2 separate regions of the Homo sapiens genome follow, and region 1 is linked to region 2. The links come from fine-mapping of genetic effects on gene expression. A gene starts in region 2. The other region holds a variant in brackets. All regions are shown on one strand. Distances are from middle to middle. Region 1 overlaps CLEC2A (C-type lectin domain family 2 member A). Region 2 holds the start of KLRF2 (killer cell lectin like receptor F2).

Region 1 (4,405 bases), 40 kb after region 2:
GAGGCCCAGGCCTGGAGGACCCTCCTGGTGAGGAGACAAGGAGATGGGCACTCATGTAACAGTCTGGCCACTTTATCATAGGGCTGCTGTGGTATGCTGGTGGCCATCTCCAGTCCCTATTTACCTCGGATTTTCTGATACCTGTAGGTACCAACAGTGAAGCCTACAAAACAGCAAAGAAGGTGGCCTGCCCCTCCCTCTGTGAGCTCTGTGCCAGGGAGGTACATAGCTATTACCGGCCCAAGAACACCTGTAGGAGGCAGCTAAAGACCCTGGTTAGAGATCCTGCCCAGTGAGGAGGAATGGGATTGGGTACCCACTTACAAGGGCAGTCTGGCCACTTTTTTGTAGAGCAGCTGTGCCGTGCTGGGGGACCACTTCCACCCCTGGTCAACTTGGACTCTCCAAAGCCTGAAGGCTGGATGGCTAAGTCACCCAAACAGCAAAGATGGCTGCCCACATCTCCCTCTGGGAGCTGTTTCAGGGAGGTGCAATGCTGTTATTGATGGCTGGCTAGAACTCCAAGCCAGTGGGTCCTATCCTGTGAGATGCCATGGAAGTGGGTCCTGCAGAATGTCGCTGCTCAGCCTCCTGGATTCAGCCCCTTTACTAGGGATGTGTAAGGGGGTCTAACCTCCCTCTTCGCTGGAGTTTCAACTACTTTTGCTGGGAAGCCTGGAACTCCTGGCTATCTGAGGCTCCCGGGTCACTGCACATGCCTGAGAGGCTGCTCTTTTGAAGCTCCACTTAGCTCTGTGTGTCAGACTGAAGGCCCCGGTGGAGTTGGTTTACAAGGGGATCTCCTGACCCGAGGGTTGCAAAGATCCATGGGAGCAGCATGGGTTCCAGGGGTTGCACATTCACTCACCACTTCCCTGGGCGAGGGGAGTTCCCCTGGCTCCATGTCGTTCCCAGGTTGGCCATCGACCTGCCTTGCTTTTCTTCATTGTCTATGGGTTGAGTTGTTTCCTTGATTAGTTCCATTGCGTGTACCCTGGATGTTTCAGTTCAAAGTGCTGTATTTACTCACCCCTTCAGTTCCTCTCTTTGAGAGCTGCGCACTCCAGCTACTTCTAGTCGGCCATCTTGGCCACTCTCCAACCCCCAGCTTTTCTTTAAAAACTAATCTATTTTCTTACTCTGTGTCCCTAGAGTCCACGTGTCTCCTTCTTTGCCCTCTTTACTTCCATTAATTCACTCGCGTCTTCGAAGTGCACATATTTCCTTCATTTCCTTGTCTCTAAATTCTAAGAGCTGTATTTTTAAAAATTTTTTCTGTCTATGCTTGGTAGAATGCAAATTGAAAAGGGTTTAAAAAATCTACTTAATAATCTAAGAACATTTAACGAAGACATTTAGATACATAAACAGTATGCATTGTGGTAAAGGACATGGCATCACTAGTCATCTTGCCTGGGTTCAAATCCCAGCCCAACAACTTATGGCTGTGTCATTGGCTGGGTTACATAACATTTCTGTGACTGACTTTCCTCATCTTTAAAGTAGGGAGAGTTATATAACTCCTTCATGGGTGTTAGTAGAAGATTACATGAGATTATATAGTTTCAGTGCTTAGAACACTGTTGAGCACACATTGTCATA[C/T]ACAGTTGACTCAAACAATGTGGCAGTTAGGGGCACTGACCGCCTGTGCAGTCAAAAGTCTGTATATAACTTTTGACTCCTCAAAAAGTTAACCATGCTGTTTATGGTATCTCATGCTAATTCTAGCACTTTGGGAGGCTGAGGCAGTAGAATTGCTTGATCTCAGTTTGAGACCAGCCTGGACAACATAGTGAGACCTCATCTCTACAAAAAATAAACAAAATTAGCCAGGAGTGGTGGTCTGCACCTGTAGTCCCAGCTACTCAGGAGGCTAAGGTGGGAGGATTGCTTGATCCCAGGAATTCAAGGCTACAGTGAGCTGAGATTGCACCACTGCACTCCAGCCTAGGTGCCAGAGTGAGACTCTGTCTTAAAAACAAACAAACAAACAAACAAAAAACAAAAACAGAAAACTTAGCCACTAGTAGCCTGCTGTTGACTGGAAGTCTTACTGGTAACATAAAAGTAAATTAACATATATTTTCATGTTATTTGAATTATATGCTGTATTATTACCATAAAGGAAGCTAGAGAAAAGAAGATGTTATTAAGAAAATCACAAGAAAGAGAAAATCTATTTACTATTCATTAAGTGGAAGTGAAGACATCGTAAAAGTCTTCATCCTCGTTGTTTTCATATTGAGTAGGCTGAGGAGGGGGAAGAAGAGGAGGGTTTGCTCTTGCTGTCTCAAGGGTGGCAGAGGAAAAATAATCCAGGTATAAGTGAACCCACACAGTTCAAACCCATGTTGTTCAAGGATCAATTGTATTATAGTATTAGCTATTATTGTTTTATTATGTTTTTATACAAACAATCTCTGAAATTACTGAAGACTTTTCTGTTTTCTTACCATGTCTTCTTGTGTATCAATCTGAGCAAGTTCTGCTTTCTGCAAACTACAAAATATTTTACTGGCTGTCCAATTTCTGGTATCATCAGAAAAATAGAAACACTTATCTCTCACTCCAAGCCAGTCCCCTGAACATGCCACAGGTTTAGCATGCTTGGACCATGTGGCTGAAAAAAAAAGAAAGAAATGATCAGATAAAGCATATGTTAAAAAGTGTTTCTACTCATTCAGGTGTATTAATTTTACTTTTTGCTTCCACAGTTTGAGGCCCGTAAGTTAGCTTCCCCCCTCCCCAGAATGAGGATGAATTAACTTCCCCTGTCTGTAAGGAAGATCATTTAGTGATCAAGCAGTGCATACTTTTTTCTATTTCCCTGGCTTCTATTTTGAGAAATGGAACCACTAGCTTCTCATAATCTATATTAATATCCTGCCAAAAACAATGCATAAAATGTAGCTATAAATTCTGCAATCAAGGTAGAGTGCTGGAGATCTGCATGTAATTTAGGTTTCGAGGTTAGGGTAAGAAATGGAGGCTTTCCTTTACCTATGAAAACACCCAAGCTAGGAAAGTGAAACTTGCCATAAAGGACAACACATAAGTGAAACATAAGAATTAGTGAAACCTTTGTTTCATTTCATTTACATCCAGTGCTGAAGAATATGGAATAATAATGAAAGCACATTGTTTGGAGATTTACTGTCTCAAGGTTTTATTTAGGTGCTAAGTATTCAGAATAAGACAAGTCCATGCATTCCACATGTTTGAATAAATTAATGCAAGTAATAAAGAGCCAACTATATGCTCAAATGTAGGGCAAACTCCAAAGGCTGCACCCCCTACTCCACCATGATTTATTATTATTATTATTATTTTGTAGTGCTCAGAAGTGGATACAGGCTACTACACAGGGTGTAAGATATAATGTGTTTCAACTCTGTCTCTGTGCTCTTTTTGTTGTGTTTTGTTTTGTTAAACTTTAAGTTCTGGGATAAATCTGCAGAGTGTGCAGGTTTGTGACGTTGGTATACATGTGCCATGGTGGCTTGCTGCACCTATCAACCCATCTTCTAGGTTTGAAGCCCCGCATGCATTAGGTATTTTGCAATCTATCCATTTGACAAAGGACTAATATCCAGAATCTACAAAGAACTTAAACAAATTTACAAGAAAAAAACAATCCCATCAAAAAGTGGGTGAAGGATATGAACAGACACTTCTCAAAGAAGACATTTACGCAGCCAACAGACACAGGAAAAAACGCTCATCATCACTGGCCATCAAAGAAATGCAAATCAAAACCACAATGAGATATCATCTCGCACCAGTTAGAATGGTGATCATTAAAAAGTCAGGAAACAACAGGTGCTGGAGAGGATGTGGAGAAATAGGAATACTTTTACACTGTTGGTGGGACTGTAAACTAGTTCAACCATTGTGGAAGACAGTGTGGCGATTCCTCAGGGATCTAGAACTAGAAATACCATTTGACCCAGCCATTCCATTACTGGGTATATACCCGAAGGATTATAAATCATGCTGCTATAAAGACACATACACACGTATGTTTATTGTGGCACTATTCACAATAGCAAAGACTTGGAACCAAACCAAGTGCCCATCAATGATAGACTGGATTAAGAAAATGTGGCACATATACACCATGGAATACTATGCAGCCTTAAAAAAGGATGAGTTCATGTCCTTTGTAGGGACATGGATGAAGCTGGAAACCATCATTCTCAGCAAACTATGGCAAGGACAGAAAACCAAACACCACATGTTCTCACTCATAGGTGGGAATTGAACAATGAGAACACATGGACACAGGGACGGGAATATCACACATTGGGGTGATGTTGGGGTTGGGGGAGTGGGGAGGGATAGCCCCCCTGTCGTGGGGTTGGGAGAGTGGGGAGGGATAGCATTAGGAGATATATCTAATGTAAAT
Region 2 (4,405 bases):
TTGCACACAATAGATTCATTACATTGATGCTATCATGCCAACTGTTCCTGGTGAAAAGTAGGCAGTAAACCTACTACATATTTTTATAAGACATATGTTCACCACCATTAACTTGATCCAACTTGACCACTTTGACCCAATGAACCCTATGTTTAGAAGTGCACAGAAGCATTTTATCACAAACATAATTGTGCCATTTTGGAGGCAAGGCCTGAACAGTTCCAAAGAAGCACAGTAAACTGCATGAGCAGATGGCTCAGACTCCGATGGCACATGTTCGCATTCCTTTGCTATCTCCACCTCAACCATACCTATGACCCGGGTTGGGGATGGAAAAGAGGGTTCTGTACGATCTTACACTGAAGTAGTTGAAAAAAATAAGTTTATCAGTGGTTATGTAAAATACGGCAGCTGGAATAGATGCCACACTACAGTCCCATTCAGGAGAAGACTGTGAAAGACAGAAGTGAAGGTAAGTCTTCCCACTGAACAGAAGTTTGGACAATATGTCTGGTTGTGAACCTAACAGGAAGGATAAGCACTCAGAGAAATACATCTAAATCATCTTATCAGAAACTAATAGGTGAGATGACTTGTCGGAAACTCAAAAAGAACAAAATAGAAAAATGAATGAGAAGCTAAGAGGTACATATAGAGATCATGCAGAATGGACGCGGCGTGTGTAAATATTCATTCCCATGTAAATACTCACAAGTGACATCCAGTGTTGAGGAGGAGACTCAATAATCAGGTGAACACAACATGTGCTGTGGGAAACAGTCAGCCACCTTCCCCAGACACTCGGTGTTAAATCAATGGATTGATATTGAGTGGCCACGTAGCAGAAACAGAACCATTAGCATGTGTGTGTGTGTGTGTGTGTGTGTGCGTGTTAAGTGAAATATATATAAAATAAGGAATGTGATTATGGAGGCTGGTAAGTCAAAATTCTGCAAATGAGCATGGACAGACTGGGTACCTAGGAAGGCTCAATTCAAATGCAAAGTCCACCGTCTGTAGAATCAGGAGGAGCTAATGCTGCAGATAGTCTGAAGGCCATTGCTGGAGAATTCTCTCTCACTCAGGGAAGACAAGTCTTTTTGTTCTATTCAAGGCTCCAACTGACTCAATAAGGCCCAGTCACATTACAGAGGAGGCAAATCTGCCTTACTCAAAGGTCACCTATTTAAATATGAATCCCATCCAAAAACACCCTCACAGAAATAAGCAGAATGATGTCTGATCAACTATCTGGACTCTCTGTGACTCAGCCAAGTTGACACAAAATAAACTGCCACACCTACTGAAGGAAAATCTGCCTGGCGTTTTCTGAAAAACAAACAAACAAACAAAAAAGTTTAAAAAGTTAAATTCTTTGCAAGTGATTCCGATTTTCACTAACTTGAGACTTGCTGATCTTTTATTTTCCTATTTTTGTCCCATCTAACCATCGTTATTTGGACTCTACTAGTCAAATATGTCCCAAATAACAAAATTGCTATTTTAACTTTTTTAATTTGAATTTTTATTTACCTAGACATTTGTTCTGTTTGTTTAGAGATTATTTGTTTTATTTTATTTTTTCTCTTACTTTATTATAAAAGACATGAAGGAAGGAATTATGTTTCTAATACACCGCACACAAGTGGCAGGAACACACAAGTCCATTTGTTGAAAACAGTGGAACACACTAGCTACCTTTACCTTGAAATTCACAGAATTGTAGCCAGATATTAACAAGCTTATATCCATTTTCATTTACCAACACATCCTGTGTGGTTTTAGACATCTGTGTCTGAGTAAATTTTGACTATTTTTGGCCTTCCTTTTAGTTTTCTTTTAGTACCTTGTGCCAAAGAGACATATCCAAGGTTGAGATTAGTTTCCATTTTCTTTGTACTATTTTCTGGATAATAAGACATTAGACATTTGAAGAGATGGAGAATGAAGATGGGTATATGACGCTGAGTTTCAAGAATCGTTGTAAATCGAAGCAGAAATCTAAAGGTAGGAATACTGCTCCCCATCACCGCATTTAAAATTTCATTATTCTTCTAGGAAGAGAATTATCTTAGAATATTTTTAACATCTTAACATTGATCATAATAAGGAATATAAAAATGGTCATAAATTGTCTGTTAGATTATTTAGATTCATGAAAGCATCAACAATAAAAAGTCTGCATTTTCAGAGCCATGAGGTAAGAGAAATGCGAATATGACGATGTGTAATCCTGTGTGTTGTAGCATAAGAACATCACTTTCGAAGAAAAGGCTGAAAAATTGTGTTTTTACAGAAACTTCCTCCTACAAAACTTAAAGTTTATATAAACTTAAAGCGTATATATATGCTTATATATATATTTATGCTTATACATATATAATATTTTTAATCTTCGTAAAAGCCCTATAGGATTGGTAGAACAATCTACTGGGAATGCGAGAAGAGAGAAAAAAAAACAAAAAAACATTAATCTTTGCTCCTTAGGGCTGCTCTGTGGTTGGCTTTGTTTGCTTTTTCAGGAATTTTGAAAACAATCTTGTTGAAATAGCCAAGACCTAAGTTAAGATGACATAGGCCAGAAATTCAGAATTACCAGTCGCAGTGGCAGTTCTGCCATATGTATTGAACATTCTCGTGTACAATCTCATTTTATATCTAGCAAATGCAAACTTCCCCTGCACCCCCTGCCCCCACAAAATGACACTTTTGTTATTATCTGAAGACTCAGATCTTTTTTGTGTTTCAATATCATGAAACAAATGTTTACTTTTTCAATAGTAACTTACTTCCATGCAGCAAAAACTAGTACCATTGGTGTTAAATTGACTGAGGCAGACCAGGCACGGTGGCTCATGCCTGTAATCCCAGCACTTTGGGATGCAGAGGTGGGCGGGTCACCTGAGGTCAGGAATTCGAGACCAGCCTGGCCAACATGGTGAAACCCCGTCTCTACTAAAAATACAAAAAAAATTAGCTGGGTATGGTGGCGTGTGCCTGTAATCCCAACTACTTGGGAGGCTGAGGCAGGAGAATCGCTTGAACCCGGGAGACGGAGGTTGCAGTCAGCTGAGATCATGCCACTGCACTCCAGCCTGAGTGACAGAGCAAGACTCCATATATAAAAAAACAAAAAAAATTATTCAGACCCTAAAGCCCACAGACTAAATGTATGGCTCTGGGCAGAAGCTTTTAGCCTTCTTAAATCTCAATACTTTGATATATAATAAGAAAAATCTACCTGATGATGCTTTTATGTGGATGTTAAACTAAATTTACTATTTTTTAATCTATAAACTACTTTTTAATATACAAATGTGTACAGAGACTTAAAATCTGAGTATTGATACATAAAATATAAGATAATATCCATTTAAATTATGAATGAAGGAAGGATAGGGCTGGGAAAATAAATTGGGCCAGAAAAATTACTGTAGGCATGTTTGTGCTTGCTATACATTTGCTTCCAAGCTTCCTTGTTATTACTGACCTAAGGGAATTCTTACCAGTTGTTCAGTTCACATTGTGTATAAGATAAAGTTACACCTATTCCTTAAGATTGATATAATTAATCTTGATCCTAAATCAGAAAAAATATTTTCCTGAGTTCTCATGAAGCACATAAAATAATACAATTAGTGTTCTTGCAATAGTAGCACCAGCAGATTTTGTAAGACAATTTCTTCATATAGCCCTGTGTAAGCCAATGGCATCTAGCCAAGCAGTGCTAGGATAGGCCAGCATACTGCACTTCATGTACTCAGCTCTCTGTTCACCTGGCTTGATATAGTATGTAAATCATGGCTTACATGAAAATATTAATTTTTGGTCTATTGTTCAGTTTTTTATAAATCTTATTTGGCAAGAAGTTTAAAGTCTCCCTCCCTGGCATGTATGGAAAGAGCACTTGTTAACTACAGATCCATATACCCTTGATTGATATTTTCTCATAAAATTGCAGAAATGTATTTTGACGATTTTCAATTAAGTAGAAGTCTTTCCATATTTGCTTGAACAGCAGAAATATCTACAGGGAAGAAAAAGAAAGAAAATTATTTTGGACTTAGTAATACAGACAATTGAGTAGCAAATTTCAAAAGGTACACTACATACAGTAAATTCTCTAAGTATATACTATAGATCTAATCAAATGCAGTAAATCCATAAAACCTATTGAAGTAAAGCATCCACACAGAAATTAGATTTGAGAAACAGCACTTTTATTATGACTTAGAAGACAAATTATTTGTGAAATGTACAACCAAGGTGATGAAATTAAATGTTTGTTTATAGATAAAAGAATAAAAAATAGGGAATAATTATCAGAGTATCTCAAATTACTTTGCTTTCTCTTTGGCCACTAGCCTGGCAAACTGACTAAAATGATTGTAGATTGAGATATTAA

The links. PIP is the estimated chance that this variant, and not a neighbour inherited with it, causes the effect. A credible set is the group of variants that fine-mapping cannot tell apart.
Region 1: its variant is the best candidate, but not a certain one, in a credible set for the expression of KLRF2 in unexposed skin (GTEx, PIP 0.74).

What each region holds. Positions count from the first base shown.
Region 1 is chr12:9,919,613-9,924,017 of GRCh38, forward strand. CLEC2A (C-type lectin domain family 2 member A) reads right to left here. Exons shown (of 5, transcript NM_001130711.2): 3 at 2,454-2,620. Among named protein-coding and RNA genes, the nearest start is that of CLEC2A, 11 kb to the right of the region's middle. The variant C/T (reference allele first, on the strand shown) is at 1,603.
Region 2 is chr12:9,879,659-9,884,063 of GRCh38, forward strand. It overlaps KLRF2 (killer cell lectin like receptor F2), which reads left to right and starts at 1,831. Exons shown (of 6, transcript NM_001190765.1): 1 at 1,831-2,007. The coding sequence starts at 1,938. It also overlaps a transcript of CLEC2A not described here.